Linked DNA regions of Homo sapiens. The protein of the gene in region 2 purifies or fractionates together with the protein of the main gene of each other region. This does not show direct contact. Each region holds a gene or a part of one and is shown on either strand. Other genes may lie near its edges.

Region 1 (3,654 bases), on a different chromosome or scaffold from region 2:
AAAAAGTACAAAAATTAGCTGGGTGTAGTGGTGCATGCCTGTAATTCCAGCTACTTGGGAGGCTGAGGCAGGAGAATCGCTTGAACACGGGAGGTGGGAGTTGCAGTGAGCTGAGATCATGCCACTGCACTCCAGCCTCTATCTATTTTTTTGGAGACTCTATCTCCAAAAAGAAAAAGAAAGAAAGGTTCTCAGTGGCATTGCTGGAGAGCAGGCTGGCAGGGCTATGCAAGGGGTAGGGAGGGACAGAGAGGAAAGTTGGGGCAGCCTGGGGCTGGGGAAAGGGGTAATCTAGAAAGTGGGGTCTCAGTTCTGCAGATGAACAGATTTGACACTGACTCGAGAGGCTGATGAAATAAGAGTTGTTGGACCCGATGTGGGTGGGAAGGTGGAAATGATGTTCCCAGGTGTTGGCCTGGCTCAGTGGGTGGCTGCCTGGTGCTGGTCACCTAGGAAGGGGGACCAGCAGCATTGTAAAGATGCAGGTGTGTCTACAACAATGGCACACAGTAGGTGCCTGAAAGGGTATCAGTTAAATCAGAACACATCCCCCAGTCTATTTTACTGATGAGAAAATAAAGGCTCAGATAAATTGAGTGACTGAGGCCCTACAGGCCTAAGATTGCATAGCTAGTGGTACCTTGTCCAGTTCGGAGAACTCGATCCTCTCCTCCAGGGTGCAGCTCCGGCCGATGGGCGAGATGTTCAGCATGCCATTCCGGAACTCGATGAAGGTTCCACTGGTGGTGAGGGAGGGCGGGGAGCCAGAGAGAACCAGAACGGCCCTGAATTCAAATCTAGCCCCACCTGGGACCCCAGCCTCCTAGGACTTCAAAGGGGACAAGAATCCACACTCCCCGCAAAAAATCAGGGGCCCAAGTATCTCCAGGTTCCCTCTGAGGGACCCACACTTCTCCTCCCTCAGGCCCCAGGTTCTGGAGACCAGGCTGGTGGGACCTCACCGCTTCTTGGGCAGCCTGAGCAGGGCCATGTAGCTGAGGCAGAAGTTGATCAAGTCCTGCAGCAGCTCCTCCCCCAGGTGGTTCTGGATGGTCTGGCCAAGGAACACAGGGCTCTGAGCGTGGCCTGGGCTGCCTGACCCTGAGACAGGCACAGTGTCTCTCCCCCAGCCCAGGACAGAAGCCCCCTTGGACTGCTCCACTATGGAAAAGTGGGGTGCCCCTGGCTAAGCCCTGGGGGACACTGACCTGCTTGGAGAGCAGTCGTCCGTGCTTATACTGCACCGTCCCGTTCTCGGCAAACACATAATCAAACTTCTCAATGACTTCAGGGTCACATAGAGGACAGGAGGAAGAAAGAGTGTGAGACCACGTCTGTGACCCCACGGGCAAGTAAAGAGAGAGGAAGCCTACACCCTTGGTTTCACATTCAAAGGCCATTTGTTCAATCTGAGGCTACAACCTGCTTCTCCAGCCTTTCTCCCTCTGCAGCTTGGTTTTCTTCCAAAGAAGCCAGTCACACCTGTGGGCCTCTGCACACAGGCATCCATGCAGGTCCTTCTGTCAGAACCGCCCTTCCCTGGCTTCCCTGCCACTCATCCTCCAAGATTCAGCTTCCTCCTCTGGAAGCCATGCAGTACTCTCTGGCAGAGGGCATCATTTCCACTCTGTGCTCCCCTGCCCCTCTGCAGAGGGGCTCCCTTCTGTTCTATAGCTGCCATCGCACTGGGTTCTCAAGGCTGGCTGCATGGGAGAGTTGGAGGTTTCAGCTCTGACTGCCAGGCGAAGCAGTTGGAGTGGGTGGGAGGTGGGAGGCACAGGGAGCACAGCCCAGAGGCTGTTGCGGGGTCTGGGTGGCACGTGGTTACCTGGACTATGATGGCGTGGTGGAGATGGAGACAGAGGGGACAGGGAGATATTTTGGGGTTTGCTGATGGAATAAACAAGAGGTGGGGAAAAGGAAAAATTCGAGGAAGTTTCTGGCTTGAGGAACTGGAGGCACCCACTTTGACTGGGCTGAGACCAGGGGCTCTGAGGTCCAGTCGATTTCCTGGATAACTTCAGAGTCATCCTCTGTTAAATGGGATGATCACGCCTACTCTAAAGTGTGATTGTGGGGATCAAATGCAATGACATTAACACATGATCATTTTTGACAAATGGTAGCCATCATTGGTTCTGCCCTTTTATTTATTTATTTATTTATTTATTTATTTATTTATTTATTTTTGGATGTGTAGCCTCACTCTGTCACCCAGGCTGGAGTGCAGTGGCCTGATCTTGGCTCACTGCAACCTCCGCCTCCCAGGTTCAAGCGATTCTCCTGCCTCAGCCTCCCGAGTAGCTGGGATTACAGGCACGTGCCAACACACCCAGCTAATTTTTTGTATTTTTAGTAGAGACGGGGTTTCACCATGTTGGCCAGGCTGGTCTTGAACTCCTCATCTCAAGTGATCCATCCGCCTCGGCCTCCCAAAGTGCTGGGATTACAGGCGTAAGCCACTGTGCCGGCTGGTTCAGCCCATTTTAAAGATGAGGAAATCAAGACTCAGCAGGGAGAAATGAGAATGTAAACTGCATAAGGGCAGGTTCTGCTTGCTTTGCCCCAGCCATTTCTCAAGGGCCTGGCACAATCCCTGGCAATAGGAAGTGCTCAAGTGTTTGTCAAATCAGTAAGGGAACTATCTGGCTGCTCTCTCTCTATTTCTTCTGCCCCACAGAAGCAGGACTGGATCTTTGAAGACGCCCAGGAATCTCTCAAACTCCCCACTCCCTCTACCCCCAGCCTCACTCCTACCTTCATCCCCGTCACCCAGCTGCTCAGCGATCTTACAGTAGTCAGAGCCGCCCACCACACCGATCTGCACTCTACTTCGTAGCTTCTGCAGGAAGGCGGCCACCTCAGGGTCAATTTTCTATGGGGGGAGAGGGGAAGCATAGCATTCTGGCTTTCAACATGTCTGGGACCTCCACTTAGCCCTCACTTAGTGCTGAGAACCCAGGAAGCCCACATTCTACCTGGATCTGAAGCAGTACAAAGCTTAGACACCAAAAATTAGACAGGTTGGACACTGTGGCTCAGGTCTGCAATCCCAACACTTTGCGAGGCCAAGGCAGAAAGATCACTTGACCCAGGAGTTTGAGACTAGAGCCTAGGCAGCAAAGGAAGACATTGTCTCTATGAAAAAAAAAATTTTTTTGGAGACGAATTTTTGTTCTGTCATCCAGGCTGGAGTGCAGTGGTGTGATTCTGGCTCACTGAAACCTCTGCCCAGGCTGGAGTGCGATGGCGTGATCTCAGCTCACTGCAACCTCTGCCTCCCGGGTTCAAGCGATTCTTCTGCCTCAGCCTCCCGAGTAGCTGGGATTACAGGCGCCTGCCACCATGCCCAGCTAAGTTTTAAATTTTTAGTAGAGACAGGGTTTCGCCATGTTGGCCAGGCTGGTCTTGAACTCCTGACTTCAGGTGATCCATCCGCCTGGGCCTCCCAAAGTGCTGGGATTATAGGCGTGAGCCACCGTGCCTGGCCGAAAGTTTTTAAAAATTAGCCAGGCATGGGCTGGCACGGTGGTTCACACCAGTAATCCCAGCACTTTGGGAGGCCCAGGAGGGTGGATCACTTGATGTCAGGAGTTCGAGACCAGCCTGGCCAACATGGTGAAACTCTGTTTCTACTAAAAATTAAAAAAAAAA
Region 2 (3,654 bases):
AAACTGAAAGGTGGATAAAAGATAAACTAATTCAATATTGGGATAAATTAAAGACTTCAATCTTAATTATGTGTTGGACAAAGAAAAATAGAGATGTAGTCAAAATTTCTAATGAGTCCTTAAACTTACCTAAGGGTTAATTGTTTTTCAGTCTTTCTCCAAATTTCTCATCCACTTTGGAATGCATTTAATAAGCAATCAGCTAAAACTTTGCTGTGTGATCTTCACAAAGATTTCTGTTTTTATAAGGATACATATCTCAAAGATATTGTGTATGCACTGTGAACCATTATTTCACTTATTCTAAGAGATATATTTCATCATCTTTTAATATATCTGAAATAATAATGGATCTTAAATGATAGTAGATCATATTTTAAATGGTAGCATTATTTCTTTGTGTTTCTTTCTTAGTGGTACATCCTGTAGTTGAGGGCTTCTTACACCTGATGAAATACCATAGGTTCTGCATGTCAGGTATTGTTCCAGTGCTTTATTTATATTTAATATTTCAATACATTTGAAGGTATTAAATCATTTAATCCTCATAACAACCCTAGAGTACTATTTTAATTTTCTTTTCACAAGTGAGGAAACTGAGATACAGAATAGTACTATAACCTGTTAAGGATTATAGAGCTAATAATAGCATAGCTGGTGTTTGAATCTAGACTGGCTCTAGCATTGAGTTTCAATCTCTGCACTTTATTGTCTGGTTCTGTGTTTCTTTATGGACCAAGGTTATGTCATGCTTATTGATTCAAGCATGCAGCAATGGCCCCGGTATAATTTCTTGAACTTGATATGGCAAACACATTTTTACAGAGTAAACTTAAGAAGCATTCTACCTCAAAACGCTTAGGAAGTGAAACAGTGCATTGGGAGATACCATAGAAAAGTAATAACACCAGTAGTTCTCCAAGCTTCTGTGTTTGCAGCAAAGTTGTACATTGAAGTGTTTGGCAGAATGCACGCCAATCCAAGTTATGTTCAATAACTTGGATTATATCAGTATGTGCTGGTGTTTCTAAAACAACCTATTTATTGTGTACAATTCTTTCAGCTCTTCTTCGATAGTCTGCCACTGTATTTATATACCTGTTCCTGCCCTGACCACACTCTCTCATTCATTACTGAAACAAATTTTCCAAATAATTCTTATTTTATCTTGCTGCTAGCCTACGCCTCTTAATTGCACTTAATTGACTTGAAGCATATTTAACATCTACATGCCTTGGTTTACTCATAAGTAGCATATGGATAATACTAAGGGGTAATATTATAAGTGACCTTGGAGTTGGGAATATTAAATGAGTAAACGCATTGTGCCATTCATCTAGCAAGCATTAAAACTAGCCATCATTCTTATCACCACTGTTATTGTTAATAACACCATTCCAAAACCATTCTGTCATCTTTACATTTTGTTACCTGGAAATTTGTTTGTCCTTTCCAAAGGCAAAATATATACAAGTTTTTCTTCACTTTGTGCTGTCAATTTGGCATCAGAGATGTGCTGCTTAACCAGTGATGTTATACTCTCTGGATCACACCTTTCATTCAGATGCAAACTAACATTTAAAAAGAATAAAAGTTATTTTTATCCAACTGTGTCTATAAAACAATTTCCTAATTATGTAGTATGTGCTTGTCACTTTATTAATATTTATGAGACAAAAAAATGTGTAGTTTACTGGACAAAGTAAGATGTAAAACTACTAATAAAGTCCAAACCATTAAATCTATGCAACATGGCAGAAGAATTAGTATAAGGGATGATTAGAGTGGGAAGAGGTAACTCAAGGACTCTTATTTGGAGAAATGAGATATTAAGCCAGATCTTGCCTGGGGTGAGGTAAAGGGAAATGTTTAATTTGTCAGCATCTACTCAAAAACCCAACCTCCCAACCTTGAGCTTTCCCTTTGTAGTAATGTATGAGTTCTGCCGAAACTCAGACTTGAGCATGAGAAAACAAAAAATGGAGGTGATGTGATACAGTCATTAAGAATGTGGCCCCATGTCATGCTAATGCAGATTCTGCTAAAGCTAATTTTATCATTTTGGGGCCCAAAATTTATTCAAGTGAAATCTGGCCTGTCTTTATTAAGAATATATAAAATTACTCATGAAATTATTTGATTTTTGAAACTCCACTGTTAATCACATACATTGAAAGGTGCTGAGGTGACAGAGTGGTGAGAAGATCACAATTGACTGATGATACAAACCTAAAAAATCAGTTTGAAAAAAAGGCTATTCTGTACTTACAAGGTATAGTACTTACAAGTGCTATCAAGAATACCAAATAGGAAGAATGCAGTACCTTCTCTAAAGAAGCTTCCAACATAAAAATAATATAAAGCAGCATATGACAGAAGATGTGAGGGAGAAGGAAGTTGAGTTAACTCAGTTGAGCACTTTGCAGCTTGTCAAGTATTCATTCACTCAATATTTCTTAGCCTTAACTGCAAAGTAGGTATTATTACTGCTATTACATAAATGAAGTTACTGAGGATCAAAGAAGTTAATTAAGTTGCCTAAGGCAACAGTTCAAAATAGTGCTTTCAGCGTTCCAGAAAAGAGGATACTCATTAAGGAGAAAATACTTTCAGAAATGGTTAAGACTTGGACATGGTTAAATGGGTTGAAGAAGAACATGTTTGACAGATATCCTCTCTCAAGCAGAAACAAGACAACTGAACTATGAAACATAGCTAGAGAATAGTGAGTATTCAATAGAGGGTATTGATTCTACTAGATTGTAACAAGTAGTAATGATAGATTGGTAGATTTGTAACAAGTAGTAATGATAGATTGGTAGATTTGATCAGATTAGCCACTTTGAGTAAAAAATGAGGGGATCCATTTATCCATCAGGATGAAGTGATTTGAATCATTTTTTAAAAAATATCTACATTGCAATGCAAAATATAGGAAGCCATTCATATCACACCTGTAATTTTGAAACAAAGACTATCATTTACAAGTCGTGGAGATTGGCAGATTGTTAAAACTATCTGAAGTGGTATTTTCACTTGTCAAAGGGGAATAACAATAGTATCTTCTTAAAGTTATTTAGAGGATTGAATACAATAATATGAATATTCTATATGTAAATATCTTAGTAAGTACCTAAAACATAGCCAATACTTAAAAAGTAGTAGACATTACTCAGTAATGATAATAATTATTATCAGTAAGAGAAAAAAACCACAAAAGGATGGTGGAAAGAAATGAAGTCAGGGAGAATACAGGGTATTGAAATTGTCAAGATGAACAAAAATAAAACATCTAAAATATGAGAAGAGAAAGGGTCGGAATATCAACAAATTACTCTTAGCAAGCAACACGTTGTGAAAATATTTTTCAAAAATTTTATTTAAGCCTAGATTAATCATCCTTGCATGCTCAATGTCTATAATCTCATATATCCTGCATTCTAGCTAAAAAAGCAATTATGCCTTAGTTCTACCATAGCTCCCTTGAAATGAACTTAGTGGTTATAGGGCCTACTTTTACACATTGATGCTGATACCACCTGCCTCCAGCATTTTCAGCATCTGTCAACACGTCTCCAACATTCAGGGCTGTACCTTAAATGGTAGCCTATGCCCCATTTCTTCTTAAGGAACAGAGAAGAGCCTGCACACTTC
Region 3 (3,654 bases), on a different chromosome or scaffold from region 2:
GAGGTCTCACTATGTTGCCTAGGCTGGTCTTGAACTCCTGGGCTCAAGTGATCCTCCTGCCTTGGCCTCCCAAAGTGTTGGGATTACAGGCATGAACCACCACACCAGGCCATATCTTATTTCCATAAACCCAGCCATTCACCAAAGATATTTCAGAAAGACGTACTTTATCGAGTTCGTAGAACTCAATGCGTTCTTCTTGGCTGCAGCTTCTTCCAATAGGGGACACGTTTAACATCCCATTTCGGAATTCAATGAAAGTACCCCTGGGAATGAAAGGGTGACAGAGTTTCTCCAAAAACACGTTATTCATTTGGGCAACATAGATAAACAGCCTAAAATCTTGGGAAATTCTAAAAAGCAGAGGCTAGTGTGGTCAATGTTTCTCAGCTCTGTGCTATGTAATATGGTAGCCATGAACTACTGTGACTATTAAGACTTGAAATGTGGCTAATATGAATTGAGATTAGATTTGAAAGATTTAGTATGAAAAAGGAATGTAATTGCATCAATCATGTTGTATATTGACTTTGTGTTAAAATGCTCATATTTTGAGCCTGGACAACATGGCGAAACTCTGTCTCTACAAAAAATACAAAAAATAGCCTGGCATGGTTATGCATGCCTATAATCCCAGCTACTCAGGAGGTTGAGGCAGGAAGATTCCATGAGCCTGGGAGATAGGGGTTATAGTGAGCTGAGATCACACCACTGCACTCCAGTCTGGGTGACAGAGTGAGACCCTGTCTCAAAAAAAAAAAAAAAAAAAGTCATATTTTAGAAATATCAGGCTAAATAAAATATATTATTAAAATTCATTTCACCTCTTCCTTTTCATTCTTTCAAAATGTGGCTACAGAAAATTTAAAATTATACATAGCTCACTTTCTATTTCTGTTGCACAGTGCTGCTACTGGGCAGATAATTTTGTGGTTAATAAAGAGCTATGAAAATGATTTCCAGCACTGGCAACAGCAGTCATTTCCTAGAAGAGTTTGAAAATACATGTACCAGACATCTATTTTGCTACGGAGCTTCTGAACAGACTGATAGTACCAAGCAAAGCTACACAGAAAAAGGCTCTGAGAATTGTCCAACGAGCCTCAGTAATAACTGAGGAAATTCAATTTACCCAGTAGCAGACAGCTCCTAAATGTTTGATTTGATCACAGAAAATGAGAAGCTAACATTAGTTTAGTCACTTCAAATGACGATGTTTAAAGATGTTCTTTTGGCTGGGCGCGGTACCTCACACCTATTAACCCCAGCACTTTGGGAGGCCAAGGTGGGTGAATGGCTTGAGCTCAGGAGTTTGAGAGCAGCCTAGGCAATATGGCAAAACCCCGTTTCTACAAAAAATACAAAAATTAGCCGGGCATGGTGGCACATGCCTGTATTCCCAGCTACTTGGGAGACTGAGACAGGAGGATTGCTTGGGCCCGGGCAGTGGAAGCTGCAGTGAACCAAGATCGTACCACTGCACTACAGCCTGGGTAACAGAGGGAGACCCCGTCTCAAAAAACAAACGAACAAACAAAAAATAAAAAACAAAAAACAAAGAGTTTTTTTCCACGGTTTCCAGTTTGAGTCTGAAAACAGTTTCTTTGGCTCACACCTGTAATCCCAGCACTTTGGGATGCTGCGGCGGGCGGATTCCTTGAGGTCAGGAGTCAAGACCAGCCTGGCCAACAAGATGAAACCCTGTCCCTACTAAAAATACAAAAATTAGCGGGACATGGTAGCGCATGCCTGTAGTCCCAGCTACTTGAGAGGCTGAGGCAGGAGGATCGCTTGAACCCGGGAGGCGGAGGTTGCAGTGAGCTGAGAGCATGCCATTGCACTCCAGTCTGGGAGACAGACTCTGTCTCAAAAAAAACAAAACAAGCAAACAAACAAAAACCCCACAACCAAAAAAAGAAAACCACCCAGTTTCTTAAAAGTTCAGATAACTTGTAAGCTAGATATCATTCTGACCAATGAAATTTAAGCATTTTCTGACAAACTATGCAGTGAAAAGTGTCTTCCAGTTCTAAACGCTGATGCCTGGGAACCCTATGAAACATTTTCCCTCATCTTTTTCTACTATTTTAATCTCACAGACCTGATGTCCTGGCACTGGCCATTGGAAATACCGAGAGACCACATGCCACGTGCAGGGCTGATGACCTGATTCCATGTCAGTGTGGCCTCTTAGGAGGCTGTGTGGCTCTGGGCACCTCTCCAAGCCTCCTCTTATTCACCTACAGAAAGGCTAATGGCACTTGCTCTGGTTACCTCCAAAGGGCCTTGTTAAAAATCAAACATGCCAGTTATGTAAAGGTACTTTGTAAACTGGGAAGCAATGAATACTCATTAAAGTAAAAACAGCAAAATCTCAATCGTCTGGATCCTCTCTCCTATTTTGCTCAACTTGCAGAGAAAGAGGCAAATGATGTAACAAAATATGCGAGCCTAAAAATCTCTCTCAATAATCCCATGTCCAGGCCGTCCCGGAGTTGGCAGAGGCCCAGCCTGTCCTCTACCACGTGTGTATGAGCACTGAGGCACTAGGGGACGGGTGACCGTGCCCCGGGTGACCCTAGGGCTAAAGGTCCTAATGATCAGAAAAAGAGCTCAATTAATGCCCCCCCACTCAAGGACATATTCTTCTTCTCATTTCCAAGGCACAGAGAGAAGTTGATGCAGTTTAGAAAGCCTTCCCCAAAACAAGGCTGAAGGTGGTTTACTAAGCAATCAGTTCCGCCCTAAAGACCTGGGCTCTCTGAAGTCTTACTGCATCTGCCTGGCCGTTGTGGGGCATGTAGTTAGTGTTGTCAGGCAAATGTGGACAAATGTGGATCAAGGTGGGTCTCAGTTCTGCCTCCTGGATTCACCAGGTCTCTTCTACTGTTCTGGAATTATGGCTCTCCACATCCCTCTCCCTCGCTAAATGATACGCTCTTTGAGGACAGGATTATGCCTTTTTTTTTTTTAAATCCTCCCTTAGTGCTCAGCCCAAAGTAAAAATGGAACTGACCTGGGATATTTGTATATTTTATCTTTTCGCCATGGAAAATTTCTAACACACACAAAAGTAAACAGAATAGGATAAGTCCTCATGTGCTCATTACCCAGCTGCAACAATAACCAAGTCCATGTCCAGCCTGTCTCATGCAGGCCTCCCCCTCGGCTAAGGGACATTCCTGCACTCTGGCTGGAGATGCTGAGCAGGAGGCGCTCAGGTTATGAATCCTAATAGTGTGAAGCAGCCTCTGAAGTACACCCAGCCCTGAAATTGAATTGCCACTTAATTCCAACCCTGATGATTAAGGTGTTACATAGTAAGTGTTGAAAACTGGGGGTAAAAATGAGAAGGATTTCAAAGAAATCACTTGCAACCTCACCATCAAGAAATAGCCACTGTTAACATTTGGGTCTATTTCCTGCCAGTCTTTAAATTTACTGTCGGCATTTATGTTCATCATTATTATTATTACTATTATTTTAAAAATGGAACTGAGATAATTGTACCCATGGCAGAAGGTAGGTCCCCAAACCAAACATTTATGAAAGCCAGGGGCAGTGGCTAATGCCTGTAATCCCAACATTTTGGGAGAGTGAAGTGGGAGGATCGCTTGAGGCCAGGAGTTGGAGACCAGCCTGGGCCATACGGCA

Evidence for each region.
Region 1: the proteins of ABCA9 (region 2) and PMM1 purify together in Homo sapiens (affinity purification with mass spectrometry; one large-scale study listed by BioGRID and IntAct). This does not show direct contact.
Region 3: the proteins of ABCA9 (region 2) and PMM2 purify together in Homo sapiens (affinity purification with mass spectrometry; one large-scale study listed by BioGRID and IntAct). This does not show direct contact.

The regions. Positions count from the first base shown.
Region 1 is NC_000022.11:41,583,319-41,586,972, forward strand, and holds part of PMM1 (phosphomannomutase 1), read right to left. Parts: intron 2,876-3,654; coding exon 2,758-2,875; intron 1,286-2,757; coding exon 1,209-1,285; intron 1,055-1,208; coding exon 963-1,054; intron 741-962; coding exon 641-740; intron 1-640. UniProt on the Homo sapiens protein: Involved in the synthesis of the GDP-mannose and dolichol-phosphate-mannose required for a number of critical mannosyl transfer reactions. In addition, may be responsible for the degradation of glucose-1,6-bisphosphate in ischemic brain.
Region 2 is NC_000017.11:69,022,783-69,026,436, forward strand, and holds part of ABCA9 (ATP-binding cassette sub-family A member 9), read right to left. Parts: coding exon 3,595-3,654; intron 1,572-3,594; coding exon 1,432-1,571; intron 1-1,431. UniProt on the Homo sapiens protein: Transporter that may play a role in monocyte differentiation and lipid transport and homeostasis.
Region 3 is NC_000016.10:8,807,691-8,811,344, reverse strand, and holds part of PMM2 (phosphomannomutase 2), read right to left. Parts: intron 267-3,654; coding exon 167-266; intron 1-166. UniProt on the Homo sapiens protein: Involved in the synthesis of the GDP-mannose and dolichol-phosphate-mannose required for a number of critical mannosyl transfer reactions.